Homo sapiens: one gene and its partner. The protein of the gene in region 1 interacts with the protein of each later gene in a biochemical or structural test. Each region holds a gene or a part of one and is shown in the gene's direction. Other genes may lie near its edges. The genes, in order: DDO and PEX5.

The links.
Region 2: the proteins of DDO (region 1) and PEX5 form a complex in vitro, tested with the Homo sapiens proteins (2 studies listed by BioGRID, with this or other methods).

Annotation. Positions count from the first base shown.
Region 1 is NC_000006.12:110,402,546-110,418,490, reverse strand, and holds the start of DDO (D-aspartate oxidase), read left to right. Parts: upstream 1-2,915; 5' UTR 2,916-3,024; intron 3,025-5,024; 5' UTR 5,025-5,028; coding exon 5,029-5,200; intron 5,201-5,662; exon of another isoform or gene 5,663-6,107; intron 6,108-7,913; exon of another isoform or gene 7,914-7,971; coding exon of another isoform or gene 7,972-7,981; intron 7,982-10,048; coding exon 10,049-10,157; intron 10,158-13,540; coding exon 13,541-13,717; intron 13,718-15,945. UniProt on the Homo sapiens protein: Selectively catalyzes the oxidative deamination of acidic amino acids. Suppresses the level of D-aspartate in the brain, an amino acid that can act as an agonist for glutamate receptors. Protects the organism from the toxicity of D-amino acids.
Region 2 is NC_000012.12:7,190,524-7,206,468, forward strand, and holds part of PEX5 (peroxisomal biogenesis factor 5), read left to right. Parts: coding exon 1-1; coding exon of another isoform or gene 2-91; intron 92-364; coding exon 365-400; intron 401-702; coding exon 703-835; intron 836-1,045; coding exon 1,046-1,177; intron 1,178-8,487; coding exon 8,488-8,590; intron 8,591-11,227; coding exon 11,228-11,318; intron 11,319-11,717; coding exon 11,718-11,828; intron 11,829-12,088; coding exon 12,089-12,181; intron 12,182-12,908; coding exon 12,909-13,028; intron 13,029-15,945.

The DNA of each region.
Region 1 (15,945 bases):
CTGGACTAGCCACTTGGGTCCACTGTACTCCTCTCTCTCCTGATCCTTCCCAGCACCTGCAGTATGTGCTGTTGGTTAGAGGACAGTCTTATTCTGCCTTGTTTCCTTTCTTGAGGGAGCAAACATCTCAGAAGTTCTTAAATCTTTTATAGCCCTTGCAGTATGTCTTGGACAAAGTGGCTGCTCCATAAATGTTTGTTGATTGATTTTTATAGTAGGTGCTCAATAAAATATGTATACCACCTGTGATACTGGGAACTATGTATTTGGTCTTCATTCCCATTTCCTGACATATAGCTCCTAAAACCCTTGGAATCCTCAGAGTGATAAGAGTGTCTTTTGTATGCTAATGAGATATCTGGTGGCTGGAGCCCTGTAGTAAGCTTCAGGATGGGAGCTGGTCATCTGGAAATGACAAGACATGATTAGAGAGTGGGGACTTTCAGCCCTATCCCCAACCTCTAGGGAGAAGGGGTTGAAGGTTAAGTTGGTCACTAGTGGCCAATGTTTTAACCATCATGTCTACATAATAAAGCTTTCATTAAAAAAAAAAAAGGAAAAACACAAGACTGTGTTTAGGGAGCTTCCAGATGGCTGAATATGTGGAGGTTCCTGGACGTTGTGCCCCCAGAGAGGGCACGGGAGCTCCTTGCCCGTTCCCATATGCCTAGCCCTGGCCCTCTCTTCCACATGGCTCTTCATCTGCATCCTTTGTAATATCCATATTAATAAATGGGTAAAGGTAAGCAAAGTGTTCTTTTGAGTTCTGGAGCCACTCTAGCAAATTGAACCATTATTAATTGAACCTGAAAAGGGGCTTGTAGGGACCCCGATTTATAGCCCACCAGTCAGAAACCCACAACCTGGGGCTTGTGATTGGCATCCAAAGTAGGGTAAGTCTTGTGGGACTGAGCCCTTAACCTGTGGGATCTGACACTATCTCCAGGTAGCTGGTGTCAGAATTGAATTGAATTAGAGGACATGCAGCTGAAGTGTCTGCTAGGGAATCTGCAGAATGGGATGCTTGGTGTGTAGGGAGACAACCCCCACACACCTGGTCACAGAAAGTGTTCTGTATTCAGTGACTGTGACAGTATTGAGCATAGCCAGAGAAAAAGTTGCTTTTCCCCACCACCCCCTCACCGGCCCTCAGACCACCTTACAAAGAATTGTACATATCTCAACTTATCAGAGACCTACAACAACTTGCAAGGGATTCTTAGTTCATTCTCAGTTTTCAGATGGGCAATCCAACTCAGAAGTCAGGTGATTTGCTCAAGGTAAAAATGCAGGTCTCTTGAAACCAAAGTTTGTGTTTTGGTTAAGGGCTTGAGCTTTGGCTGGGCACAGTGGCTCAAGCCTGTAATCCCAGCACTTTGGGAAGCCGAGGCGGGCAGATCACAAGGTCAGGAGATCGAGACCATCCTGGCTAACATGTTGAAACCCCGTCTCTGCTAAAAATACAAAAAATTAGCCAGGTGTGGTGGCGGGCGCCTGTAGTCCCAGCTACTAGAGAAGCTGAGGCAGGAGAATGGCATGAAACCAGGAAGCAGAGCTTGCAGTTAGCTGAGATAGAGCCACTGCACTCCCGCCTGGGTGACAGAGCGAGACTCCATCTCAAAAAAAAAAAAAAAAAAAAAAAAGAGCTTGAGCCTTGACGTCAGATATCCAGACTGGATTTTACCATTTAAGAGACCCTGGACCCTTCCTTACTGTCTTGGAGCCTCAATGTACTCATATACAAAATGGGGATAGTGATAATAGTACCTACTTCATAGGGTGGTTGTGATATATGATGTCATACATGTGTCTAGCACATGGTTAATGCTACATATACATTATTGAAAATATTATTGTCACTAATTTGACACATCACACTGCCTCCCTGGAAACAAACTTGTTAACTGTGCCTCATGCCTAGAGCTCAGTAGACACTCATCAAATATTGAATCCCTTCTTTGAATATGTGGGCTAAATCAGGGATCCCAAATCCCCAGGCCACAGACCACTACCAGTCCGTGGCCTGTTAGGAACTGGCCTCACAGCAGGAGGTGAGCCGTGGGTGAGCAAGCAAAGCTTTGTCTTCATTTATACCCACTCCCTATCATTTGCATTACTGCCTGAGCTCTGCCTCTTGTCAGATCAGCTGAGGCACTAGATTCTTATAGGAGCACAAACCTACTGTAAACTGCGCACACAAGGGATCCAGTTTGTGTGCTCTTTATGAGAATCTAATGCCTGATGATCTGTCACTGCCTCCCATTACTTTCAGAGAAAACCATCTAATTGCAGGAAAACAAGCTCAGGGCTCCCACTAATTCTACATTATGTTGAGTTGTATAATTATTTCATTATATATTACAACGAATAATAATAAAAATAAAGTGCACAGTAAATGTAACACACTTGAATCATCCTGAAACCATCTCCCCATCCCCAGTCTGTGGAAAAATTGTCTTCCATGAAACCAGCCCCTGGTGCCTAAAAGGCTGGGGACTGCTGGGCTAAAGAATCATGTGGTTCTATCCTAGATTATCTCCTGAATAGTGTTTCCAGCTCCAATCAATCAACAACATTACTCAGCCCTCACCCCCTCCTTCCTGCTTCCCCCACCAGCTGACCCAGCAGAGCCAGGCACCCGGCTAACTGTGGGCAGCCAAACGAGGTTGGAAGTTGGACAGGCTCACCCATTATTCACCATACCTACAAATCAGCTGGAGAAAGCCCAGGCTGGCGGCCAGACAGAGGGCTCGTGGGCCAGAAAGGGAAGGGCTTGGCAGAGACAGCGCCATGGAGATGACAGGTTGAGGTCACTTGCTCCTTTCTCCGGGGCAATGGGTGACAGAGACAGCCATGCAGGCCAATGGAAAGGAAGACCAGGGGGAATGTCCTGAATCAAGTCACCAATGGGAATCAGTTTCGCTTTCTCTCTGTCTCTCAGGGCATGAGACCAGCCAGGCACTGGGAAACAAGGTTTGGTGCCAGAGATTTTGGTGGCTTCCAAGACTGCTTTTTCAGAGACAGGTACTTGAATTCTTGCTTTCAGCTGAGGGGTCGTTCCGTCCATGCTCTGGGAGTTTGGGAGTGTGTCTGAATAGGGTCAGGGGACAGTGATGGACAGGCCACTGTGCCAGGACACACCACATTGCTCGCTCACTCCTCCTCCCTGGCAGCTGGTTATTCTTAGCCACAGATTGCTTGCCCTTTCAACTTAGTTTATTAGAGCTGTTTTGAGAGAGTTGCTGGACATGGGAGGCTGATGTGAAACAGCGAAGTCAATAAGGTCACTGGTGGCTGCAGGACAGCTCTACTCAAGCTGGCCCCCACCAGACTGCTCTGGCCTGGGCCCGTTCCCTTCTCTTCCCTCAGCCCTGGCAGGCCCACTCTCTCTCAGCTGACCAGCCCACTGTACAGCAATCAAATTAACGTATCAAATTAGCACAGAAATGCATAGACTGCTCGAGGAATAGGAATATCACACTAAACTTCATTGGAGGGCTTTAAAGTCTCATAGTGCGAGAATCTTCAGAACTGGAAGAGAAAGCAGAGGCCACTAACAACCAAGCCCACGTTTTTCCTGCCAACAGCCCTTGCTGAGGAAGCTGCCCAGCCTTCCAGAGGAAAGGTGAACCTCTGTGTGTGGGTGGCCATGGTTTGTACCATGTGGCCCAGTACCCTGATTACTGTGCTTTGGACAGAGAAGGGCAACTATGCCAAGGGCACATTCAGAGGCTGGTTTAGCCCAGCAAGTTGGCCTGGTGCTAGAATTTTGTCCAACAGGGGATGCAATGACCAACTGGTACAACTGCATTTTCTCTCTCTGGAGTTTAAACCTGAGCCATACAGAAAGAGTCAGAGCAGGAACAGATGGGGAAAGCCAAAAACAGGGAAGCAAAGGCAGGCGGGGATGCTGACAGTGGAGCAAGGCTCCGTGGGTGAGGGGTGGGACAGAGGGTGCCAGCCTCAGGACACCTGGCCCGGGCTCCGGGATGTCTGTCCCCTGCATTTCCATTCAGACTCTCCCAAGGAGCCCCCTTTATGAGACCGCCTCACTGGGTCTCTCTTATTTACCACCCAAAGGAGCAAGTAATCCATCTGTTCTGTGTTACAGATGAGGGAGTGGAGGCTAGGAGACCACGGACTGCTCCTCAGGTTACAGAACCTGTCCAGGACAGACAGGGGGCCGGTGACAGTGGCAGATGGCAGAGGAGACTGAGTTCAGCTGCTGAAACTTTCTGTAATGTCCTTATTATTAGAAACAACTTTGTAGACAGAGTTGAGTTTTGAGTTGCTCATGGGTCATGCCCCTCACCACTGCTCCTCAGGTAGTTCTGGGAGCAAAGACTACAGCTCTGTGGTTTTCTGTCAACCTTCCCTAGGTTGTGCCCATAGGGAAAATGGTTTAGGAAAGGGGGATGAAGCCGGGCATGGTGGCTCACGCCTGTAATCCCAGCACTTTGGGAGGCTGGGGCCGGCGGATCACAAGGTCAGGAGTTCGAGACCAGCCTAGCCAACATGCTGAAACCCTATCTCTACTAAAAATACAAAAATTAACCTGGCGTGGTGGTGGGCACCTGTAATCCCAGTTACTCAGGAGGCTAAGGCAGGAGAATTGCTTGAACCTGGGAGGCGGAGGTTGCAGTGAGCCGAGATCTCGTCGCTGTACTCCAGGCTGGGCAACAGAGCAAGACCCCCTTTCAGGGGGAAAAAAAAGGGAAGGGTGAAGAATGAGTAGAAAACTCCTCCAAATGCAGACCTACTTACTGGCTAGGTGTTCTAAAGGCAAATCCAAGCCAGTTTTGTGTTACTCTCTAAAAGCCCATGGAGATCTTGTTGCTTATACACCAATATTTAATGGAAAGTGAGCTTATGGGGTTATCCTCTTTATCTCACAAGAAACACCAATAGGCTAAGTCTTATTCTGAGTGGCTGAAGACCTAAGGAAAAAACTGTCAAGACCAAACTTTGTCTGGATGGGAAAATCCTTAAAACAAGGGGTATAGCTCCCATTTCCCTCCTCACAGGCTCATGGACACAGCACGGATTGCAGTTGTCGGGGCAGGTGTGGTGGGGCTCTCCACGGCTGTGTGCATCTCCAAACTGGTGCCCCGATGCTCCGTTACCATCATTTCAGACAAGTTTACTCCAGATACCACCAGTGATGTGGCAGCCGGAATGCTTATTCCTCACACTTATCCAGGTGAGAGATTTCAGCTCCTCTATCAGATACAATAGATGTCAGATAGAATGATGTTAGTGGAATTCTATTGACAAAAGACAGCTGGCTATAGGTGTAAGTGTAATATGCAGGTTTTTTTCTTTTTCCTTTCCTCTTTTTCTCTTTTTTTGAGACAGGGTCTCACTCTGTCACCCAGGCTAAAGTGGAGTGGTGCAATCTTGGCTCACTGCAGCCTCAACCTCCCAGGCTCAAGTGATCCTCCCATCTCAGCCTTTCGTGTACCTGGGACTACAGGTGCACACCATCATGCCTGGCTAGTTTTTGTATTTTTGTAGAGACAAGGTCTTGTCTTGTTGCCCAGGCTGGTCTTCAACTCCTGACCTCAAGCGATTCATCCCCCTTGGCCTCCCAAAGTGCTAGGATTACAGCCGCCATGCTTGGCCATAATGTGCGGTTTTAACATCCTGTTGGTTCATCTCTTAGGACAGCCTCAGTTATGCTGCAGGACAGAAACAACATCCAAATCTTAGCAGCTTAAAAGGCAAAAGTTTGTTCTTGCTCACACTACATGTGGATTGAGCATCAGCAAGGGGCCAGCTTGTCATCAGGGACCTAAGCCGATGGAGCAGCTGTCATCCTGATTGTCATCAGCGCATGTGCCCAGGGGCGGAGGGGAGGGGACCTCTGAGGTTCTCGCCTCTGTGATTAAACACTCTGGACAGGAAGCGACTTTCAACGCTTCTGATGATGGCTCATTGGCAGAGCAGGCCACATGTCTCCACCCTCAGCAGGAGGCCAGAAAGTGTGATTCTATAGTTCCCGGAAGATGGATAGCAGAAGCATGGGATGAACAGTACTGACAACTACATGATTGGCGGCTCTGTCTTTCCACTGATAACAGTAATGACTATCAAGTCAGAAATTACTTGTAAGGGAACTAAAATTATCCTAACTTCTAAGCCTGTATAAGAACAATTATCAATATGTTTGTAATCAGTCAATCATAATTAGTTAATATGTATTAAGACCTGAAGATGCATGGATTTTTTTTTTTTTTTAAGACAGAGTCTTGCCCTGTCACCCAGGCTGGAGTGCAGTGGCACGATCCTGGCTCACTGACTCACTGTAACCTTCACCTCTGGGGTTCAAGAGATTCTCATGCCTCAGCCTCCTGAGTAGCTGGGACTACAGGCATGAGCCACCACGCCCGGCTAATTTTTGTATTTTTAGTAGAGACAAGGTTTTGCCATGTTGACCAGGCTGGTCTCAAACTCCTGGCCTCCCAATCCTCCCACTGGTGGGGCATGGTGGCTCACACCTGTAATCTGCTGGCATGCCCCACCAATGCATTGATTTTTGAACATGTCCATGCGTCCTTTCCTTTCTGTATTTTCCACTTGAAATGGGGGAGGAAGAAAATAGCATTAAATAGAAACCAAAATCACGCTGCAGTAATGAAGTTTATACTCACTGTCCCCATTTCCTCATTTCCACTCTATTTTTCCTCTTTAATTTTATTTTTTATTTTTTATCAAAGTTATATATGCCCATAGTTTAAACCGTCCTCCCTTCTGAAGTCCTTTTCCCTCTTTCTGGAAAAGTTAATATGCTGGACCTCCCAGACTGGTCCTCCAATTCTTTTAGCTTTGTCCCCCTCCTATTTATCTCTCTCTATTTTACTTTCTGGGAGACTTACTCAGTTTTATCTTTTACCTTGCTATTGAATTTTTTATTTCTACTATAACATTTCTAATATTCCAAAGCTCTTTTTTGTTCTCCGAATTTTCATTTGTTATAACATCTTATTTGTGTTAGAAGATTGCAATGTCCTCTCTTATCTTTATGAAGATACTAATAACAGTTTTTAAAAACTTTCTCCCTGAATAGTATCTGAGTATCTGTCATCTCCAAATTGTGGGAGGTTTTTGTTTTTGTTTTTTGATTTTCTCATTTTTCATGATAGAGGTTTTTCTTGGCCGTGTGGTATTCTTTACCTGTCTGCTGATGTTTATGAGTGGACCCTGAACAGCAGATGGGAATTTCTGAGTGTTTGCACAGGGCTTGTTGCCAGTGAGCTCACTGGAGTAAGAGGGCAGGGCCATTTATTTGGGGACATCTGTGATGTCATTCAGTTTAAGTTTTTCTTCTTGGGCGGGTCCTGTTTCCCAGGGAAGAGGGTTCCATGTCCTGCCTGGGGAAGATGAAGGCCCGGATGCCAGCTGGCATTTGAGAAGGTGACAGGGGAAGAGGCTGGGGTCCTAGCATCCAGTTTGCATGTGTTTCCTTAACACTCCTTTTTTCAGCACGGCATCCCTGCCTTTGCTGGTGCTTTGTGTTTTCCAGTCCAAAGACCCCTAAGAAAGAATAGACATATCTTTTATTAGGGTGGTAATAGCAGCGACCTTGGCATTGCAGGTCCAGGAGCTTGGCTGGTCAGCTCCTGGGAACTGCCTCCCAGGAAACAAACACAGGCACCTGGTGTATCCACCAGATGCCAGCTGATATAGTTTGGCTGTATCCCCACCCAAATCACATCTTGCATTGTAGTTCCCATAATCCCTACGTGTCGTGGGAGGAACCTGGTGGGAGGTAGTTGAATCATGGAGACAGTTACCCCATGCTGCTGTTCTCATGATAGTGAGTGATTTCTCAGGAGATCTGATGGTTTTATAAGGGGCTTTCCCCACTTTGCTGAGCTCAGCTCTCATTCTTCTCTTCCTGCCACCATGTGAAGAAGGACTTGTTTGCTTCCCTTTCCACCACGATCGTAAGTTTCCTGAGGTCTCCCAGTCATGCTGAACCGTGAGTCAATTAAACTTCTTTCCTTTATAAATTACCCTGTCTCGGGTATGTCTTTATTAGCAGTGTGAGAACAGACTAATACACCAGCTTACACTAAGTGCTTTTCTTGTGACGAGAGTTCTTGGGACCATTTTCCAGGCTCTCCCTTGCCTGTACCAGGCCTGAGTGAGTGTTCAGAAGGCTGCCAGCTAGTCATGGAATCATCCCTCAAAGACAGTCACTCATCTGAGGGCTCATAGGGCCATCGAGGCCAGAACTGTCTCTTTGGCCAGGTGGCTGGTTCTCCTGGACCAGGGTTTTTCTCTCTGTGATGCTGCTAGATAAAGACTTTGGTCTTCTCTTTGGGTTTCTTTCCTAGACACTATTCAGATGAGCCCCAGTCATAACTATCTCCTGTGCTCATAAATGTCAATACCATATGGAGACCATGCCTGTCCCATAGGGTTGTTGTGGGGATTAAATGAGTTGATACATGTAAAGCATTTAGAACAGTACCTGGCACATAGTAAGTGCTATATCAGCATTTGCTATTGTTCTCACCATTCCAGCTATAGTTCTGTTTTACCAGGACTTGAACATGAATTAGGTCATCAGGCTTCCTAGACCCACTGCTGGATGGGAATTGTCTGTTCTTTGGGATGACTTCTGCAGCATGTGAATCTCAGCCACTATTTTGTTTTTAAGGTTTGGGGTGAGAACAGGGAGTTGCATTTTAATACAACCTCACACAGTGGCATAGATTGTTGGGTAAAGTCTATTTGAGGCCAAATTTAGTTCTCTCTGCAGCTTATTATTTATTTATTCCTTATTTCTAAAGCAGCATCCCCACTGTGAAATTTTGGAATATAGTGTTAATTTCACATGGGCACATGTTTAAAGATGGCAGTACAGATTCGCTACTAAAGAAATATTTATTGGCTCTATAACAAGCGAATTGTCTGAAAATCCCGCTACTGACATGACTTCAGTGACCTGGGGGCTTCACCTGGGAAGCAGGATGTCTCCAAAGATCTTTCTATCTGTTCCTTGAATTTCAGGGACACCTCTCCAAGTGGAACCAACTTAGCATCCTCTCTGCCTCAGTTCCCTCATCTCCTCTGTGGCTTCCCTCATAGCAGCCCCTGAGGCTTATTGTTCCCTGGTCCCTGGCCTAACCCTAGCCAGTCTCTCATGATCCTTCTACAGGAATCAGACGGCCACATACTTCAACCACAGCTGGATTTGTCTGTGATTTTGGGTCATTCCTGCCGTCTCTGTGCCTACACTGGACACTTATTTTGAGGCTTAAACGCTGCCTCTTGTTTCCTCCCCAACAGGCCTGGCACTCTTCCAAAAGTTGTGTCTGGGTCCAACCCCATGTGCTCTGGCAGAGGTGCCTGGGGGATGGTATGGTCCCTGCACGCCCCTGCTGGCTTCAGGAGTGCTACTCTGGCTGGCACCTGATTCCATGGTGTGGAAGGTAATGGCAGCCCCTGCTGGGAAGTCTGGCCTGCAGGGGGCTCGCCTCCAGCATGCAAGCCTTGTTTCCTTGTACCAGGAGGCAAGCCCCTGGAACTCCCCATCGAGGTGCAGTCTGTTCTCTGTCCCGGTTGGCCTGGGCCCCACAGACCTGCCCATGTCATCCACTATGTTTTCAGCCCCCAAGAAAGAGGCCCTCTGTCCTTGGTCCTATTGTCTCAACTGTGTGGCCAGCTGGATCCCACAGCCATGAACTAAGCTCTGCTCAGGTTGGTTATAGACCTGCCAAGGACCTCTGGAATATACCTAGTACCAAAAACCACCTTCCAACTAGCTCGCATGCCGGGTTTTGCCCTTATTGGCCTGTTTTCCCTCCATTGATTAATCATATGAGCAGATTTGGACAGCATGTGTCAACATGCAAATCTCTTGTTGCTGACAGATCCTCTGCCACAATGTGGCACTTTATATTAATGTTCCTCCCTGCCTCCTTATTTTATTTTTGCCTCCTTATTTTTTTTCCAAGTTTCTAGGAAGGAGCTTATTTGAAGCACTGTCATTATCATCATTTTCCTTTCTGTTCCACTTTGCTTTTCTCCATGATTACAGATACACCCATTCACACGCAGAAGCAGTGGTTCAGAGAAACCTTTAATCACCTCTTTGCAATTGCCAATTCTGCAGAAGCTGGAGATGCTGGTGTTCATTTGGTATCAGGGTAAGTGAAGAAATTTGAAGTTATTTTAGAGTGTAGCATGATCTTAACAGGCATTAGAGTTCAACATAAAATATTTACTGAGTAGCTGTTGTGAGCAGAGTGCTGACTTAGATGCAGGAGGATTCGGAAAGAGCATTATAGGCTTTACCCCAAAGAACTGAAGAAAGACAAGTTATGGTATTAGACTTTTTAACAATAAACAACAATCAGAGTTTCTCATCACAAATACGATTGATTTTGGGTTTCCTCAGAGACCATGCAGTGATTTGCAAATTTGGTTAAAAAAACACGCAGGAGGTAAATGCTGGATTTGGGTGATGTGGGGATGGTACAGCCGATGGAAAGCAAACAGGTATGATGTTGGGATGGCTGCAGAGACCTAAGGGAGAGGGACTTCTTATTTATTCGGTGTCCTTGGAGAATGAGATATTCCAAAGAAGGAAATTTTGTAGGTCACTAAACTTGCCTTTTGAAGTGCCATGTGGAAAAAAATATTTCTGAAACTGTTAGCACACTTCTATTTCATTTTTAATGTATAATTTCAGTAGGCATGCATAATTAAATGAAAATTTGAGAATAAATGCTATTTGACATTTCTATTAGTAAGACGAGCACTTAAAACATGACATCTTTTAATATCTTCTTAAACTGAGATCACTTAATATTCTATCACTTTCAATTTACTTCTCAGTGTCATCATATGATGTAACATACATGTCATTGGTGCATGTTACACTTGTAACATACATGTGTTATCCTGTGTGATAACACAGTCTTTCTGCGGCCTTCTGAAAAAATGTGTCTTATCTCCTCTTTTGATGTCAGGCTGCCCACTGGGGTTTTTTGCTAGTCTAGTGTACACACTTGCATTGGGTGAATTTCTACCCTTTTTCTCTTCTTGTTTTTCCTCACCATCACAAACACCAAGATGATGCTGATGTCAGTAATTTCCCAAAGCCCCTCCCCAAAGTAGCAGTTTTGCTTTCCTATCAATCTATGGATTGATTCTTCTGTATAACTAAATCTGGAGCCAGTTGATGAGCCAAGTAGAAAAAACATTTTCTTTGATTTACGGTCACACTCTTTGTCCAAATCCAACATGAGTCCGTCTAATTCACAAATTTTGGCTCTAAGTAATTTTTGGAAACAGCCATGTCCAGAATTAAAATCCCCTGTGCATCTTTGGCGTAAGTATATAGCCTTACTCATCTATTTATTCCTTCAAAACAACATATTCAGCATTCTTCAGTATCAGGTTCTTTCTTAGGTATTAGGGATATAGCAGTGAGCAATTTAGTAATACCACTTGGCATATGCTTAACAAATATGTGTTGAGTTAATTTTTAAGGAAGACACAGTCCTGCCCTTATGTAGCTTATGGTCTCTAGGGAATGCAGTAAATCAAATGAGTTACCAAATTCACTGGGACATGAGTTACCAAAAGGAAGAGGCTAGGGTGCTATGGAAGCATATGTCTGGAGAAGAAACTTGCTCTGGGAAGTGATGAGAAGCCATCCAGATCAAGGTGTTTCATCCGAGACCATCAGGAAGAGTGTAAGTTAGTCTGGTGATGTTGTAGAGGTGAAGTGGGGGCGGGGCAGGGTGGGAGACGAAGGAGACAGCATTCCAGGTGGAGGAAACAGCATACACCTAGACCTGAGTCTAGGGCGACTGTGGTGTGTGGGAGGGACTGAAGGAAGTCCAGAGAAATGGGAAGCCATTGAGGGAGTTTACACAGTGAAGTGACTGGTCATAATTGCATTTCAAAAATATGTTTTCTATAGTGTGGAGAATAGATTTGTGGGAAGAGTTGATGATGAGATAGATTGGGTGTGGACTGTAGAAACAGAGAGTAGATGGACTTGAGAAATGCCTAAGGGGAGATTTGATAGGACTTGTCAGTTGATGGTGTATGAGAGGTGAGTAGGGAGAGAGAATCAAGGATGATTCTTGGGTTTCTGGCATTAGCACCTGCATGGATGGGTACCATTTTCTGAGTTAGGTAGGATTGGGAAAAGAGTGGATGTGTGTGTGTGCATGCATGCGTGCATGTGTGTGTAAATGCATGAGACTTCTAAGTGGACTTATCTAGTGGGGAGTAGGTAACATGGGTCCGGATCTGTTTTTGGAGCTCAAGAGAGAGAATGGACTGGAGATATAACCTTCTAAGTGCTCAGGACTGGAAATGTAGCCTTCTAAGTGTCTGGCCTGTAGGTCATGGTGAAGATATGGAAGAGGGCAAGCTAGCCCAGCGCAAGAGTGGGCCAGCACAGAACCCTGCAGTAAAGGACATTTGTGTCTTCATGGGGACTGCTCTGAATCAATTACCTAGAGATACATATTCCGATGGGGGAATTATTAGCAACTATGCTTAGCACTCAGATTATTTTCCTTGCTATTTTTGAGCAATGATGATTTATAACTTTTTTTTTTTTGAGGCAGGGTCTTACTCGTCTAGGCTGGAGCGCAATGGTCCAATTCAGTTCACTGCAGCCTCGACCTCCCTGGGCTCAGTTGATCCTCCCACTTCAGTCTCCCCAATAGCTGGGACTACAGGCTTGTGCCTCCACACCCAGCTAATATTTGTATTTTTTGTAGAGATAGGGTTTCACCTTGTTGCCCAGGCTGGTCTCGAACTTCCCCTCGGCCTCCTAAAGTGCTGGGATCATAGATAGGTGTGAGCCACCATGCCTGGCATTATAACATTTATTCATTTACTGATGAAAACAACCCAATATTTACAAATCTAAACATTTGCATAGCAGCTATTAGTAGTACTATTACAGCCTTCTTGTTAACAACCAAATCTAGGCAGGAGCTTTTTAGAAAAGGAGTATTAAATTCCATCTTTAAAAAGCATGTTACTTTTAAGATGTTTTATTTGCCCAGTCACCAACATCTGCTATTTAGCTACTGAGTTATCTGAACCTAAGAGAATAGTAAAATAGATCATTTTCTCTTTGTGTTTATAGAAACTAAATTTTTAAAATGTTCTAGGCCAGCTGTAGTGGCTCATGCCTGTAATCCCAGCACTTTGGGAGGCCAAGGTGGGTGGATCACTTGAGTCCAGGAGTTTGAGACCAGCCTGGGCAACATAGTAAGACGCTGGCTCTACAAATAATTTTAAAAATTAGTCAGGTGTGGTAGCAAGCGCCTGTGGTCCCAGCTACCCGGGAGGCTGAGGTGGGAGGATTGCCTGAGCCCCAGAAGTTGAGGCTGCAGTGGGCCATGATTGTGCCACTGCACTCCCACCTGGGTGATGGAGTGAGACTCTGTCTCAAAAATAAAATAAAATAAATGCTCTAGAGAATGTCATGTGAAGTTTACTAGAAATATGTTATTTCACAAATTTCAGGAAAAAATGTTCACTTAATACGTTTGAGTTGGCAGATATTTCAGAGCACTCCGACTGAAGAAGTGCCATTCTGGGCTGACGTGGTTCTGGGATTTCGAAAGATGACTGAGGCTGAGCTGAAGAAATTCCCCCAGTATGTGTTTGGTCAGGCTTTTACAACCCTGAAATGTGAATGCCCTGCCTACCTCCCGTGGTTGGAGAAAAGGTCAGTTGAAATGCTCCCTGATATTTCCTTATCTGTCATAGCCATAAATCACTTCGTAGCTATTCATAAAATACATACTGAAAAGTCTCTGGCATCCCTCAGAGCTCTTTCGCGTTGCCTTGCCACTCACAAATGGCTAGGGCTTTGTAAAACAATCTGAAGACAGTGTTTATGTCACAAGGACTAAGTCACACCATGCTTCTAGTAATTTGTCTTCTATTTTTGGTGTGCACTTCGATGCCTGACTTATTCCCTACCCTTCTTGCCCCAGGTAAAACCCTCTTATTGAAACAGTATCTTAGTTTTCCTCATCTGTAAAATGGAACAGTTTGGAGAATATATTTCCAGCTACAGAATGATATGATTTACTCTAATTCTTTGGACGAGAGAATCTTTGCTTATTATAAATTATTTTTGAATTTTTTCTCATTTTTGGTAAAGCAAAAAAATTTCATTATTTCCTTTTGTCTTAAATAAGAACTCTGAAACTAAGGACCTATCCAAATTATGTCACTCCTTCCTCATTAAGTTCAGCCCGTGATACCTTGAACTTGCATTTCGGCTTACTTTTCAGGACTTTCAGGAAACTAGTACTTAGCTTCCAGTTAGGAAACACATCAAGAGTATCTTCATTTGAGATACATCAGTAAATCTGTCTTTAGTTTAGTCTGGACTTGCAGGCATGTTGAGAGTTGTGAAATATTGATCCTTTCAATTCCCATATGTGTATATTTTGGTAAATAGGAACGATGTGAATTATTGTGTAAATGTTGGGAAAGTGACTTGAAGTAGGCCAGGGCAACAGTGATCTGGTACCAGATGTAGGTTATAGGATAATTGATTCATATAATTCATTAATTACACAACTTTTGTTGAACGCTTATATATATCTGGCATTATGCTAGAAGCTGGTAAAAAAGAAGGATAAAATATGATTTCTTTTTAAAATAATTTCATGGTCTATTGTGGATGACTGTGTGTGTATGTGTTTGCATATTAATTAACAATGATGGTAACACACATGGTAAAATAAAGTACAGACTTATGCAGGTTAGAATGGGAGCAGAAAGGAGGAAGCCTAGATCTGCTAGGCACATGTCAGTGGCATCGTAATCTAGTTTTGTAGCTTTTCAAGTGCTCTTCTCACTTTTACCTCTTAGCAATTTATATGGGACATTTTGCTTCTGTAAGTTCTAGTTTCATAAAACCCATGCCTTTTCTGGCCTTGTTCACCAGCCCATAAACCACTGTTCATATGCCAAGTTTGGACTTGTCTACATCAGCTGATAAACGTATATTTTGAGCTATCACATGATGGAGTTGCCCACCAGCCAACAAGCAAATTTTAGCAGCATCACCATCTTTCCTGAGTGGCAATAGTGTGTAGTGTTGAATTTTCCCCCTTCTAAAAATGACTAGAAATACAAAATTAGAAGCATTGATGCTAGTGATAAGGAATTGAGGCATCATATAACTTATCTTAATAAAATCCAGAATAAAATAAAATAAAATAAACAAAAAAAGTTAAAACATGTGGAAAAAGGCAATAAAATAAAATAAAATTTAGGTAAGTGGAAATTATTAGGCATGGCAAAAAATGGCAGAGTTTCCTTTCAATACAATGCATAACATTTTTAGATTATGACTCAAAAAGAGCTCAAAATGGAAGAACATGTACAAAATATTGTGATAAAAGGTGAGGTGTCATTAAGGAGTTTAACTTTTTTTGGTATTATTAGTGGTTTGGGCTGAAGTTTCATTATTGCCACCAAGTCCATTGTGTGGCTTTCTCATCTTGGATTTTTGTCTTAATGATCAGTAAGCTTTCTAGAAAACCTGGCTGGAGCCCTGTGGTCTCCAGCAGATCACGGAGAGGCAGATGAGTGAGAACCTAAGAGTGTTGTTCTCCCTCAGAGACATGGTCAAGGGCTGATTAAGGGCTTTCCTGCGTGGGGATGGCCAGGGGTATGTGTTAGGGATGGTAATGGACACAGAGCTAAGGGAGGTAGAGAAACTCTAACAAACTCTTCATACAGATTCCTAACATTTTGCTTCATTATTTTCGCTTTCTTTTTACTCCTTATACATATTTTCTTTCAGAACCATTTGAAAGTAAGTTGCAGTTTTCCTCTTGTGGCTCAGGCTGAAGTGCAGTGGCGTGATCTCAGCTCACTGCAACCTCCCGGGTTCAAGTGATTCTTCTGTTTCAGCCTCTCAAGTAGCTGGGA
Region 2 (15,945 bases), on another chromosome or scaffold:
AGTGAGTGTTCTTGAGGTGGAAAGCCCAGGTGCAGCCTCTGAGGCAGTGAGTGTTCTTGAGGTGGAAAGCCCAGGTGCAGCCTCTGAGGCAGTGAGTGTTCTTGAGGTGGAAAGCCCAGGTGGTGGTGGTCTGAGGTGGAGGGGCTGTTTGCACATCTTGGTATAACTGCTTTCTCTATTGTGTTGCAAATCATAGTAGTTACCACTTACTGAGCGTTTATAAACACTAGAAAACCCTGTGCACCTTTAAATAAATGCAACCATTTTATAGATGAAGAAGCCGAGGCTCAGATGCCTATGGGCTTCATCAACCCCTGATTTTAGAGGAACTGCGTCATTGTACATCTCTGTCTTTCTCTCTTAGGCCTCCAAGCCTTTGGGAGTAGCTTCTGAAGATGAGGTAAATAGACCAGTCTCTTTTCTGTCCCATTTTTCTCTTGCCCACTGTGTTTTTACCTTTAAACTTAGTTCACCCGTATTTCAATTTTTGGGCTTTCCTGACCGAATGAGAATGCCTGCTTGTTTTTAAATGTATTTTTTCGTCCTTCTAAATCTATGGAAAGACAGTTTCTCTTTATGTGTCTCCAGTTTCTGTGTTTTCCTTTCCTTGTATCTAACATTGGGATCCCCCTCCAGTGGGTCCTGCCTCTTGCTGGGGCCTCCCAAGCCTATGGGTTCATTTCATCATTTCCCTTCTGGCAGTTGGTGGCTGAATTCCTGCAGGACCAGAATGCACCCCTTGTGTCCCGTGCCCCTCAGACCTTCAAGATGGATGACCTCCTGGCTGAGATGCAGCAGATTGAGCAGTCAAACTTCCGCCAGGCTCCCCAGAGAGGTGAGTCCAGAGTCTAGTGGGAGGGGAGATCGTTTTCCATGTAGCCAGGGCCAAGGAAGGGGGTTCCATTGGATGCTGCTGGCATTGGGGACCTGAGATGCAGAAGGAGACAAAAGTAACAGAGTGTTTTCACGTGGATTCAGGGTTCTTTAGGCATGATGGAATGGTATGTATGTATTCTTTCTTAGTTTTCTCTCTCTCTCTTTTAAGCCCCTGGTGTGGCAGACTTGGCCTTGTCTGAGAACTGGGCCCAGGAGTTTCTTGCAGCTGGAGATGCTGTGGATGTAACTCAGGATTATAATGAGACTGACTGGTCCCAAGAATTCATCTCTGAAGTTACAGGTGAAACTTGTTATGGGAAAATCTATATTGGCTTCTATGGGACAGAATTCTATACCCTTCCCCTGTTCACGTTATAGTGTGATTACGATTTTTCTGGTCTCATGACTCATTTCTAGAGGGGTAGGGTACTGAACTCAATTTCCCTTAGGTGATAACGGAATGTAATGTATATTAAAGAGAGGACTGGGTTTGTACTGGATAAGAGATTTTGGATAGAGAGAACGAAGAGTTTGGTTGGCCTTTTTACTTTATCACTGTGGTTTAGTGGAGAGGATCTACAGATTGGATGGATGGCAGTGTTGCCGAGGAAGAGAGTATTCACTACAGCACCTGGGATTCTGGCCTTAAGTTATTTGGAACAGAATTGGGGCCTTCAGAGTGTTATTGTGAAGTTCCAGTGCCTGAAGTGTATGGCTTTAGAAGGTAAAGACCATACCATGATGATGATAATAAAAATTAATAACAATAGTTACGTTCTAGGCCTTGTGTTACATGCTTTGAATGCATTATCTACTTACTCTCCATGAGAACCCTAGAGGTAGTTACTGTTTTTAGACCTAGTTTAAAGATAAGAAAATTGAGGCTTAGAGGTGAAGTGTGCCCAAGGTTACACAGCTTTGTCAGTGGTAGAGTTGGGATTTGATCCTGGATTTGAATGATTCCTGACCCTGTGGCCTTAACTGTGATGCTATACTGTCAGGCCTGCAATTTATCTTCTTTCTTGCTTTGCTACAGACTTAAAGGTTTCAGCCTAATTTTTCCTCTTTGAAAGCATCCATTGCTCCTGCATCTTTTATGATTGATTCTTCTTGCCCTAAGCCTATCTAATCAGGTACATGGTGGGAAGGGCAGTCTCTTCAGCTTTCCTCTTCCTGATTGCTCTCAAAAGTTAGCCTTTTTCCTGTTTAAGATATCAAGAATAACAAGAGATACACATAGAGAAAGTTACCAAGTTCCAGGATCTCGGGGAGTCACATCATCATGGTTCCTGAATTTTTCTGAGATGATTAAAGGGACTGAATTGGTTTCTACCCCCACCATTTTAATTTATGTTCTTTCTTCGTTTGCTACAGATTTCAAGGTCTCAAGTCTAATTTTCCTTGAGAGCATCCATTGCTCCTCGCATCCTTTAGGATTGATTCTTCTTACCCGAAGCCTATCTGATCAGGGACAAATGTGTGTGAAGGAGGCCCATGTTTAGGATGGGCTTCTCCGCACACAAGAGAAAAATCCCAAATCTAAAAACTAAAACTCACCTTTAATAAGATCTGTGGGTCTCTTTTATCACGTGTCTCTTTCCCACCCATAAGTTGGAGTTAAGGTAGAACAGTAGGTGCTCTTGGCTTTAAGAGTGCTAATCACTTTATCTTCTTAAGCTCATTAGAACTTCACAGTAACAGTAACACAAGGTGGATATCCCACCCCCATTTTATAGATGAGGAGACTGAGATTTGGAAAAGTTAAATACTTTGTGCAAAATCATTGAATAATAGAGATGATATTCAAACTCATGTCTGTGTGGCTCTTGAGATTCTTTTTTTTTTTTTTTTTTTGAGACAGGGTCTTGCTCTCACCCAGGGTGGAGTGCAGCGGTGCAATCTGTACGCACTGCAACCTCTGCCTCCTGGCTTCAAGGGATTCTCCCGTTTCAGCCTCCTGAGTAGCTGGGACTACAGGCGTGTGCCACCATGCCCGGCTAATTTTGGTATTTTTAGTAGAGACAGGGTTTCACCATGTTGGCCAGGCTGGTCTTGAACTCCTGACCTTAAGTAATCCACCACAGCCTCCCAAAGTGCTGGGATTACAAGCGTGAGCCACCGCACGCGCCCTCACGTTGAGATTCTTTGTGAAATTGCCGCAAGTTAAAATCTGAACCATAGCAAAGACCCTCTCCAAGACAGAAACTCAGTTTTTCACATAAACCTTAGACTTAAGTGCTATCTCTTATCACAGAGAGGCTTCTGTTGTAATGTGGGCATTAGTCATTTTTGATAATTCAGAAAAATCATTGCTACTATGAGCGTTGAGATGGATGAAATTTTTGCTGTAATTACCTGAATTGCATGCAGCCATTGAAATCTTCCTTAACTTGAAATGAAAAAGAACTTTAGAAAAACATGTTTTATCTGTCTCACCAGTTAAATGCTCTTAGTAGAGCTCTTCTAGTATTTTGTAGATTCTTTTGGAATCGTGCCTGTTTCACAGAGGCAGAGACATGCAAACCTTAGAATGGGAGTTGAGCTGTTTGAAGTCTGCCTTCATAAAAATGTCTTATTGCAGCAGTATATTGCTTTGCATGTAGTAGGCCTCTGGTATTGAATGAATGAATTGAGATCTGGGAGAAAAAGCTAAAGGAAAGGAGTTCATTTTGTCGTAACTGACTTTTTTTTATTATCCTTCATTTTTAATTACAGCATTTGTGGTTGATACAATTGTATGGGTTAGCTATGGCTTTATAGATAAGTAGATTTTGAGATGAAAGAAGGTTATACTTTTTAAGTTCTTATTTTAAAATCTCCACTGTTAAGAGTCAAAATCAAGTTTAAAAAGAATGTTGCAGCTCAATTATTTAAATTTAAATTTTTTATTTGGAAGTACTTAGTTTCACTGGAAGTTGAAAAAAAAAATGTATAGGAAGGTTCTGTATACCCTTCACCCAGTCTCCTCCAGTGGTAACATTTTACATAGCAGTTATGCAGAGATCAAAAATCAAGAAGTTGCCCTTGTTTCAATCCTCAGAGTTTATTAGGTTTCACCAGTTTTACATGCCCTTATTTGTGTGTGTGTGTTTTTTGCAATTTTATTAAATGTGTAGATTTGTGTAAGCACCATCATGATCAAGATACAGAACTATTCTCTCACCACATGAAGTTCATTTTTTTAGCTTACCTTATTTTGTAATGGAATCCCCCCGTCTTAAATCTTCTGGGTCAAATAATTCTCCATCTTGTGTTTGCTCAGATCTAGAGATAAAACACATCTTCAGGGTTCTTAAATTTAGACAGCTTCGGTTGACATGGTATGTGAGGTTCATATGATAATCGTGAGAGATAAACCTGCACTTTCATGGGAAAAGCCATGGATAGCAGTAGCAGAAGATAATTGGCAACAGATCTTTTCTGGATGTTGGAGGAGAGGCTTTGGAATAACAGTCTCATTGTGATGTTTTCTGCTTTTGTTATAGGTTTGCCATGAGCAGACTAATGATAATAACTAACATTTGTTACTGTATTCATTGGTTTTCACCGCAGCCCCTACTGTTATCTCTGCTTTAAAGATAAGGACATGGAAACTTAAGAAGGTTGAGTAACTAGTCTGAAGATGCACAGTGAATAAGTGATGGAGTTAGGATTTAAATGTGGGTAGACTGACCCTACAACTTGTATTCTTCTCCACAGTGCTGCTATTTAGCAGACACAGAAACTTTCATGAGTAAGAGTAGCAAGTTCTGAGTTTTTGACTTTTGAGCTTGGGGAAGATGTGCCTAGAAGGAATGAGTAAACAACGAGAAATTATATGAGGTGCACATTTTGAGTGGGGTATTTGGTGTCTAGGTTATTCTCACTCTACTAATCTGTATGACCTCAGGCAGTGCATCCCCTCTGTAGACCTTAGTTGCCTTGATCTCAGATGTATCCACATGGATCTGATTTTCTGTAGGAATTTCTCAAAGATTGTGAAGGCAGTGTGTTACTCTTTTGATTCTTTCGGTTATTTGACTCTTGTTGGAGTAGGTTCCCAATGCCAAGAAATTCTGGGTCTTGTGGCGATTTAATCTGGCCAACTACCAAATTATAGGTATTTGAGGATAGTTTTTCTCAGCTCTGGGATTTTTTTTCTTAAACTGCCTCATATCTATTGTTAAGTCCTCATGTCTGTTGTAAAAATTCAAAGGTGCTTTGTGTTTTTTCTGTTTTTTTTTTTTTGTCCTTGAGAGGACCATTTCATAGGAATTTGAAATGTTTTCTGTGAATTTGAGGAGCACTTATGGCCAGAATATGCTTTTGCAAAATACTCTAGTTGAGAGTTAGAAGTGTTTGGAGAGTTGAGGAGGTAGTAGTTATTTTTCAACAGAATGGAGCTAAGAATTTCAACTAAGAATGGAACTAAGGAACTAGGAGATCTTAAAGTCTCTTTGAGTATTAAGCATCTCCTTTCCGTCTCCACACTTGAGGCAACAGTCTAATTGGGGCAAATGGAAGAGAAATGCTTCCTGTAAGAGCTAGTGAGCAGAATCTGTATTTAATTTTTGAGAGTCCTTGAAATTAACAGATGGATCTATGGTCAAAAAAAATTGCCAACCATATTTCTTATTACATTATACATTATATATTATATATATTATATATACATTTTACATTATATATAATGTATATATAATGTATTTCTTATGTTATAACGTATTTCTTATTACATTATGTTATATATAATGTATTTCTTATTACATATGTTACATATAATGTATTTATTACATTATATATTATATATAATGTAATATATGTTATGTAATAATTATATATGTCATATATAATTTAATTATATGTCATATTTAATTATATATGTCATAATTTATATATGTCATATATAATTTAATTATATGTCATATATAATTTAATTATATATGTCATAATTTATATATGTCATATATAATTTAATTATATATGACATATATAATGTAATAATTATGTGTCATACATATATGTGTCATATATAATGTAATAATTATATGTGCCATATATAATGTAATAATTATGTGTCATATATAATGTAATAATTACATCATATATAATGTAATAATTATATATGTCACATATAATGTAATAATTATATATGTCACATATAATGTAATAATTATATATGTCACATATAATGTAATAATTATATATGTCACATAATGTAATAATTATATATGTCACATATAATGTAATAATTATATATGTCACATATAATGTAATAATTATATATGTCACATATAATGTAATAATTATATATGTCACATATAATGTAATAATTATATATGTCACATATAATGTAATAATTATATATGTCACATATAATGTAATAATTATATATGTCACATATAATGTAATAATTATATATGTCACATAATGTAATAATTATATATGTCACATATAATGTAATAATTATATATGTCACATATAATGTAATAATTATATATGTCACATATAATGTAATAATTATATATGTCACATATAATGTAATAATTATATGTCACATATAATGTAATAATTATATGTCACATATAATGTAATAATTATATATGTCACATATAATGTAATAATTATATATGTCACATATAATGTAATTATATATGTCACATATAATGTAATTATATATGTCACATATAATGTAATTATATATGTCACATATAATGTAATTATATATGTCATATAATGTAATAATATATGTCATATATAATGTAATAATTATATATGTCATATATAATGTAATTATATATGTCATATATAATGTAATTATATATGTCATATATAATGTAATTATATATGTCATATGTAATAATTATATGTCATATGTAATAATTATATATGTCATATATAATGTAATAATTATATATGTCATATATAATGTAATCATATGTCATATACAATGTAATAATTATATATGTCATATACAATGTAATAATTATATATGTCATATACAATGTAATAATTATATATATGTCATATACAATGTAATTATATGTCATATACAATGTAATTATGTTATATATAATGTAATAATTATATATGTTATATATAATATAATAATTATATATGTTATATATAATGTAATAATTATATGTTATATATAATGTAATTATATATGTTATATATAATATAATAAGTAGTAATTACTTATTATTTATAATTAGGTGTATTCTGAGAGTCTTGATCTTTGTTTTTCACATTTTGACATTTCATGCTCAGATTTTGAGACTACTTTGTTGACATTATTCAGGCAAAGTTTCAGTTAAAATGGAGTAGAAGTTTTTGTACTTTAATACCGAAGGGGTAGTAAAAGCAAGGGTGGTCAGATCTTGAAACTGGGGACAAAGACTGCTAGTATCAGCTAATATTTTCACACCCCTGCCCAAATGTCCCTCTTTAATGCAAATTGGAGTTAGTAGGTTCTCAACAAGAGAGTGGAGTTCCCCCTTGGGAACTGTCCTTGTCATGGGCCAGGAGTGGGGAATAGCAGGGGAAGGTGGTGGCAGACTAACTAGTAAGATTAGTTCTGGACACAGGGCAGAAGGAAAGAACACCGTAGGCTTGTGCCTTCTCTTTGTTTCCTTGTGTTCTTTAGTGCCCGCAGTCAGTCTCCTTGTTTTTTTTTTCTGGCCACAGGATAGTAAAGGGCAAAGTCCTGGAGGATGAAAAACAGTTCAGCACCCTCATTGAGTTTGTTGCCTTGATAGGTTAATTCTGATGTTGCAGCAGTCCCCTTTGTCACTAGAGCTTCTGAGACAGTTTCTAAAATTAGACTGAAAAAACATAGCTACTCAAAGATAATCAAAAGTGAGAAAAGTCAGAATAGTGTTTACTTCTGGGGGCTGGGAGACTGAGGGAGCCTGTGAGGGAACTGTAAACGTTCTGTATCTTGATCCGGGTGGTGGTTATGTGAGTGTATCAAATGTGGAAGTTAATTTAGCTGTACACTTAAGTTTGGTAGACATTATATGGTTTCATATTTGTATATTACATTTCAATTAAAAAATGAAAAAACCCACCAAACATCCATAGGGAAGAGCAGACCTATGTGTCTTTAATTCTAGCCTAGCATTCCACTTCTCTGATTCTCTTGGTAGGCAAATTACAATGAAATAAGGCTCCTTTGGCCGGGATTGTGTGAACTCTGGGTAGAGGGAGAACAGACCAGTGCCTTGGTTAAGGAACAGGAGCCCTTCTGTGCTCCCTTCACTCCTTACTGGCTCCCTGCTGTACTTCTGAGGAAAGTGAAAGCCCTTCCGCTTCCTATTTCTTATTGAAATATCTTGCACTTCAAGAAAAAGAGTTTGGTTCTTAATCCTTTCCTGAGATTCCTTATTTGATCTCCCGTTCCCAACTCTCAGTAAATTTCTGCCCCAGGCTCCTTGAGAATGGGTTGGATATTGAGGATGTTGAAAATTTAGTACTATATTCTTTTGACCAGGGGTTTCTGAGGGAGTCAGCAGAGTTTTGTCTGCTTTGGTGTGGCTAAGAGGGTCAGTTGAATATGGGCATCTCTTTCCCTTTCCTTGATCCCACACTGAATGAACCTGTGTGATTTCCCCACTTCTCTGCTCCTTGCAGACCCCTTGTCTGTGTCCCCTGCCCGCTGGGCTGAGGAATATTTGGAGCAATCAGAGGAGAAGCTGTGGCTGGGAGAACCTGAGGGAACAGCCACCGATCGCTGGTGAGTTCAGATACCTCTTTCCGAATCCCGTGAAAGGAGTATGGACAGTTTTCCCAGCCTCCTCCATCCACGTTCTCGAACCAACTTACTTTATTCTTTTTTTTTTTTTTTTTTATCATTCTTGGGTGTTTCTTGCAGAGGGGGATTTGGCAGGGTCATAGGACAATAGTGGAGGGAAGGTCAGCACATAAGCAAGTGAACAAAGGTCTCTGGTTTTCCTAGGCAGAGGACCCTGCGGCCTTCCGCAGTGTTTGTGTCCCTGGGTACTTGAGATTAGGGAGTGGTGATGACTCTTAAAGAGCATGCTGCCTTCAAGCATCTGTTTAACAAAGCACATCTTGCACCGCCCTTAATCCATTTAACCCTGAGTGAACACAGCACATGTTTCAGAGAGCACAGGGTTGGGGGTAAGGTCATAGATCAACAGGATCCCAAGGCAGAAGAATTTTTCTTAGTACAGAACAAAATGAAAAGTCTCCCATGTCTACTTCTTTCTACACAGACACAGCAACCATCGGATTTCTCAATCTTTTCCCCACCTTTCCCCCTTTTCTATTCCACAAAACCGCCATTGTCATCATGGCCCGTTCTCAATGAGCTATTGGGTACACCTCCCAGACGGGGTGGTGGCCAGGCAGAGGGGCTCCTCACTTCCCAGTAGGGGCGGCCGGGCAGAGGCGCCCCTCACCTTCTGGACGGGGCGGCTGGCCGGGCGGGGGGCTGACCCCCACCTCCCTCCCGGACGGGGCGGCTGGCCGGGCAGGGGGCTGACCCCCACCTCCCTCCCGGACGGGGCGGCTGGCCGGGCGGGGGGCTGACCCCCACCTCCCTCCTGGACGGGGCGGCTGGCCGGGCGGGGGGCTGACCCCCCGCCTCCCTCCCGGACGGGGCGGCTGGCCAGGCGGGGGGCTGACCCGCACCTCCCTCCCGGACGGGGCGGCTGGCCGGGCGGGGGGCTGACCCCCACCTCCCTCCCGGACGGGGTGGCTGCCGGGCGGAGACGCTCCTCACTTCCCAGACGGGGCGGCTGCCGGGCAGAGGGTCTCCTCACTTCTCAGACGGGGCGGCCGGGCAGAGACGCTCCTCACCTCCCAGACGGGGTCGCGGCCAGGCAGAGGCGCTCCTCACATCCCAGACGGGGCGGCGGGGCAGAGGCGCTCCTCACATCTCAGACGATGGGTGGTCGGGCAGAGACGCTCCTCACTTCCTCGATGGGATGGCGGCTGGGAAGAGGCGCTCCTCACTTCCTAGATGGGATGGCGGCCGGGCAGAGACGCTCCTCACTTTCCAGACTGGGCAGCCAGGCAGAGGGGCTCCTCACATCCCAGACGATGGGCGGCCAGGCAGAGACGCTCCTCACTTCCCAGATGGGGTGGCGGCCAGGCAGAGGCTGCAATCTCGGCACTTTGGGAGGCCAAGGCAGGCGGCTGGGAGGTGGAGGTTGTAGCGAGCCGAGATCACGCCACTGCACTCCAGCCTGGGCACCATTGAGCACTGAGTGAACGAGACTCCGTCTGCAATCCCGGCACCTCGGGAGGCCGAGGCTGGCGGATCACTCGCGGTTAGGAGCTGGAGACCAGCCCGGCCAACACAGCGAAACCCCGTCTCCACCAAAAAAATACGAAAACCAGTCAGGCATGGCGGCGCGTGCCTGCAATTGCAGGCACTCGGCAGGCTGAAGCAGGAGAATCAGGCAGGGAGGTTGCAGGGAGCCGAGATGGCAGCAGTACAGTCCAGCTTCGGCTCGGCATCAGAGGGAGACCGTGGAAAGAGAGGGGGAGAGAGACCGTAGGGAGAGGGAGAGGGAGAGGGAGAGGGCTTACTTTATTCTTTAAGATTTCCCCTTGGGTTATTACTCCTGTGAATTTATGGTTGAAATGTAGTCAAGGACACAGTGGTTGTGTGCCTGTACTCAGGAAGCTGAGGTGGGAGGATTGCTTGGGCCCAGGAGGTCAAGTCTAGCCCGAGGAACACAGTAAGACCTTGTCTTTAAAAAACCAAAAGCGCATGCATGTGTGCGTGCACACACACACACGCACACACATATATACACACATACACATATGTACACACGCATACATACACATACATGTGCACATACATGTATATACACACGTATACATATGTAAACATGTAGATACATGCGTACACATGTATACACACACATAGACATACATGTATACACACATACACATACACATGTATATACATACACACATACACGTATATATACATATCAGCTATATTTGGGAGGAAGGGAGTTTTCAGACTTTTAAAATATATGTATATAGGTAAATATATATATATTTTTCAAGAATCCTAACTATCCTATATGACGTTCATAACTTCATCTTAAAGTTCATAATTTTACCTTGTTCCCTTCTTAATTTTGAGCCTGCTACTATCCCATCTGTATGCAAAGATATGTTTGGGAAAGGGAGAGCTAGAAGGATGTAGCTAGTACTTTCACACTCCTGCCCAAATGTCCTTCTATAATGCAAATTGGAGTTTGTAGGTTCTCAACAGGAGAATGGAGTTCCCTCACAGGAACTGTCATTGTCATGGGCTAGGAGTGGGGAGTAGCATGGGGAGGGTGATGGCAGACTAATGTGTAAAATTAGTTCTTACCCGTTCCAGGTATGATGAATATCATCCTGAGGAGGATCTGCAGCACACGGCCAGTGACTTTGTGGCCAAAGTGGATGACCCCAAATTGGCTAATTCTGAGGTGAGCCACATCCCTCTGCTGCTTTGCCCAGCAGAGCTGGTTTTGGAAGGCAAGAATCTTGCTTTTCTTACCCCAGTTTAGTTTAAAGAGAAGGAGAAGAGATCTTAGGTCTCTTCGTTCCTGTCTATAGAACAGAGACTTAAGATCCTGCCTCTTCCTTCTAGTGTTCATTCCCTCATCTCCTTGCCTACTAACTCTTTTTTCTGATGCCTTTGCAAGTCTTTAGAGCCAGAAATCCCTTTCTTTTTGCTCTCTACCTCTTTTAGGGTCTTTAGCATATCTTGTCTGCAGCTAGAGATGGTCAGGGGAGGGGTGAGTACAGGGTCCTCTTGGGCATGGTTGAGAGTGCACACCTGGAAGTCCTTTCCCAAGTGGCCTGTGTGTGTCTCTGTGCCCCAGTTCCTGAAATTCGTGCGGCAGATTGGCGAAGGGCAGGTGTCCCTGGAGTCCGGTGCAGGGTCGGGCCGAGCTCAGGCAGAACAGTGGGCAGCAGAGTTTATACAGCAGCAGGTAGGACATTGTCACTTTCCAGTCCCACTTCAGAGCCAGCTGATGCCCCAGGCCATGGGTTCAGTGGTCAGTGGTCCCAGATGGGGAAGGATAAGACCAGCTTGTCTTGATAGCATCCAGGTCCCAAGTGGGTGGGAAAGAGATTCTGAGAATGATTTTCTCAGAAGTACCCAGGTTGGTGGTGGTTAGTGGGTATTTAGTGTGCGTCTGATGGATAGAAAGTTGGTGGTAGTGGTACTGACCATCCTTTTTTGTCGCAGGGTACATCAGATGCCTGGGTTGACCAGTTCACAAGACCAGTAAACACATCTGCCCTTGATATGGAGTTTGAACGAGCCAAGTCAGCTATAGAGGTGAGAGCAGATAGTGCAGGAGCAGACACCCCAAAAGAAAACACTCCTTGGAGTGAGTGGGTGTATGAACATCAAAGATGATGCAAATTGTATTTCATAGTGGACCTGGATCATCTGTGTCAGAGTTGCTTGGGGATGGGGTGGGTGCTGTTGAAAAATGCAGATTTCTGGGCCAGGCATGGTGGCTCATGCCTGTAATCTCAGCACTTTGGGAGCCCGAGGTGGGTGGATCACCTGAGGTTAGGAGTTCGAGACCAGTCTGAACAACATGGAGAAACCCCATGTCTCTACTAAAAATACAAAATTAGCGTGGTGTGTTGGCGCATGCCTGTAATCCCAGCTACTTGGGAGGCTGAGGCAGGAGAAATGTTTGAAACTGGGAGGTGGAGGTTGCAACGAGATGAGATCACGCCATTGCACTCTAGCCTGGGCAACGAGAGTGAAACTCTGTCTCAAACAAAAAACTAAACTAAACTATGCACTGCACTGCACTGCACTGCACTGCACTGCACTGCACTACATTACATTTCTGGCCATCACCCCAGACTACTAAATCAGTATCTGGGGATAGCATCTGGCCATTTGCATTTTAAAAAACTTATTCAGATGATTCTTAAACATATTGAAATTCAAGAACTGCTGCCTTAGAGAATCCCAGCAGAGCTGAGTGTGGGGTGGGGTGGTCATGATGGATCTCCTTTTTCTATCTGCTTTCCCTTCCTTACAGTCTGATGTCGATTTCTGGGACAAGTTGCAGGCAGAGTTGGAGGAGATGGCAAAACGGGATGCTGAGGCCCACCCCTGGCTTTCTGACTATGATGACCTTACGTCAGCTACCTATGATAAGGTGAGGTAAAAACTCTTAGTTTTTCAGGTTCCAGAACTTCCTTCTTTTTAACGTCTTTCCTTTAATCCTGAATTTGAAGGGTGCTTTTAAGTATTTTCTTGAGTCCCTTTCCACGAAAAGAAGTCTGAATAATTCCCTTGCCCTTCCTCTTCAGTGATTGAGTATAAACTTTATTCTTGGGATATAGATGTTAATGAGACTATCTTTGTCAATAACGACAGTCCAGTACATAACACCTGTGAAGGAGGTTTGCACATGCTTGCTGCATTAAAAGCACAGAGGAAGTAGCTCTGCTTGGAGGTCAGATTGGGAGCTTTTTGAGAAGACTGCTGACTCCTTTGGTGGGGAGTGTTAGTGGACAGACTATCCCTTTGCCTCCACATCTTAATATCTGTTTACTTTTTAAACTCACATATTCATTTTAAGTTCTTATCTTTTATAGGTAGTAGCCACTTGCCCTAATTTAGGGTTTTCAAAGAATTTATATTAGATAACTTAAATATTAGGGAAATTTCTTAGTAGTATGAAAGATGATTGCATTTTGCCTATAGCATGTGCTGTTGACTTAGAAGCATATGTTACTTCTGGGGTCTTACTGAAAAACAAATCTACCTGTGGGTTGTAGGATATTTGGGGATGTGTTTAATAACTGAGCTCCTGAGTTGAAACATGAAGAGGGGAAAGAATCACTTGGTTTTGAAAAAAGGCAAAACAGGAACTGGGGATGTGAGTAGTGATGTCTTTTTCTCAGTTCAGATCTGGTTGGGAAAGTATTGTGGGGCTGGAACCAGGGCCTGAGATGCAAACCAGGGTGCTGGAGATGGATCTTGATGTAATAAGGGAGCTATGCAAAGATGGGAAGATGCAGTTCAGAAAAAGGCTAGAGTTTGAGAGCCAGTGAAGAACAGTATTAGGAAAAATATGATTTTGCTTATTATTCCAGTCTGATCTGGATTTTTCTAACTATCCTGTGTGATATAAGGGAAAAGACAGCTGGGACCTTGCCATGTATTTCACTAGACTATGAGTTCATTGTATATAATTTTGATAAGGAAGAACTGAAGGAAATATAGATAACACTTTTGTTATTATTTTGTATTAACAATTTGATAAGTCACATAGGCCCCATCAACTTATAAATGGAAAGTTGTACATTTATGTAAAAATGTCCATGCTTTTCATACATATAGACATAATACTAGTTTTGTATGAGCAGCATTTTCTTTTATCATTTATTACTCTCGTATTTATGACATGCTGGCCAGAATACATTTTTTTTTTTCAGACACATAGAACAATGTGACAAATTAGAAAGCAAATTTTTTTTTAGAAAAAAAATCACATTTGATCAGGTTCCAAGAATAGAAATGTGGAAAGGATAGTCTTTTCGATAAATGGTATTGGAGAAACTGCATATCCATGTGCAAAAGAGTGAAACTGAACCGTTACCTCACACTATGTACAAAACTTAATCCAAAATGGCTTAAAGACCCAAATGCAGTACCCAAAACCGTAAAATGCCTAGAAGAAAACATAGGGAGAAAGTTTCTTGACATTAGTCTTTGCAATGATTTTTGGGATATGAGCTTTTGGTGTCATATCCAGAATACATTTTTTAATTAAAAACTTTAAAAGTATGTTTGTAGATTCTTGAGCCCTACTTGATATCATTGATACTTTGGGATATTGCAAAATTAGGACTAGAAATACTTGCATTAATGTTCCTCAAAAAGTGATGTAGTAAGCAATTAGACAGTATCTGGCTTTAAGCTAATATTGAATTCCATGTCAATAGAACTTTTTAAAAACAAAGGACTTGACTCTTGATTGTTACATAAATTCATGGATCTCTTTGAATGCACTGTTTGTTTATTGATAGCCCTTATATTTTCAGAGACAATTTACATTGCAGCTCAGGCAGATATTAATATACTATTATGATAAAAGAGAAGTATGTGATGGGACAAACTCTTTGTAGTGATCATTTCTGCAGTTTGATCCTATGAGATTTTGGAGCAGACCAGACCGTGTATCAGATAAAATTAATGACTTGGGTTTGGCTTTTCAGGATGTAACAGTGAAGCCAAGCTTATCCTGTGTTCTGTGGGTTGTTGAGGGATCCCCCAGAGTACTCTTTTTCCATCATCTATGCAAATATTCTAATTTTGGAAAATTCCTCTTTGATCAGCAATTGATGAGACTTCAAGGAGGGTAGATAATATGGATGAGAGGAAACTTAGAGAATCCTGTGGTTGCAAGATGGTGGCATTGAGTTGTTGTATTATCTAATGAAGACACCTGAAGAGCATTCGCATCACTTCTGGCTGTCATATACAGGCCATCATATCTTAAGGAAGTATCTAGAGCAGTGAGGATAATAGCTATTTACAGATAGTATCTTAAGCTTTTTGGTAAGGCGTTGGTGAAGATTCCCATTTGATGTTCTCAATGGCTCTGAGAGGCAGGAATTACTTTTATTAGGAAACTGCATTATAGATGACAGTAATCTCTGTTTTCTGTAGAGTGGCTTAAAACACGTATTAATGATGAACAATAGTTGAGGTTGAATGCAGAAGGATTTATTTTATTGAACTGTAATAGTCTAGGGCAAGGGCCAGCACACTGGCTTGTGGGATAAATCTTTATGTTTTTAGTGATCCACTAGCTGAGGATGGTTTTAACATTTTTAAATGGTTGGAGAAAATCAAAAGAGTAATACTTTGTGACAAGTGAAAATTATATAAAATTCAAATTTTAGTGTCCATAAATAAAATGTTATTGGAAGACAGCCGTGCTCATTTGTTTACTTATGTCTGGCTGCTTTCGCACTACAACAGTAGAGGTGAGTAGTTGCAGCAGATCCACGAAGCCTGAAATATTTATTATCTGGCCCTTCGCAGAAAAAGTTTGCTGATCA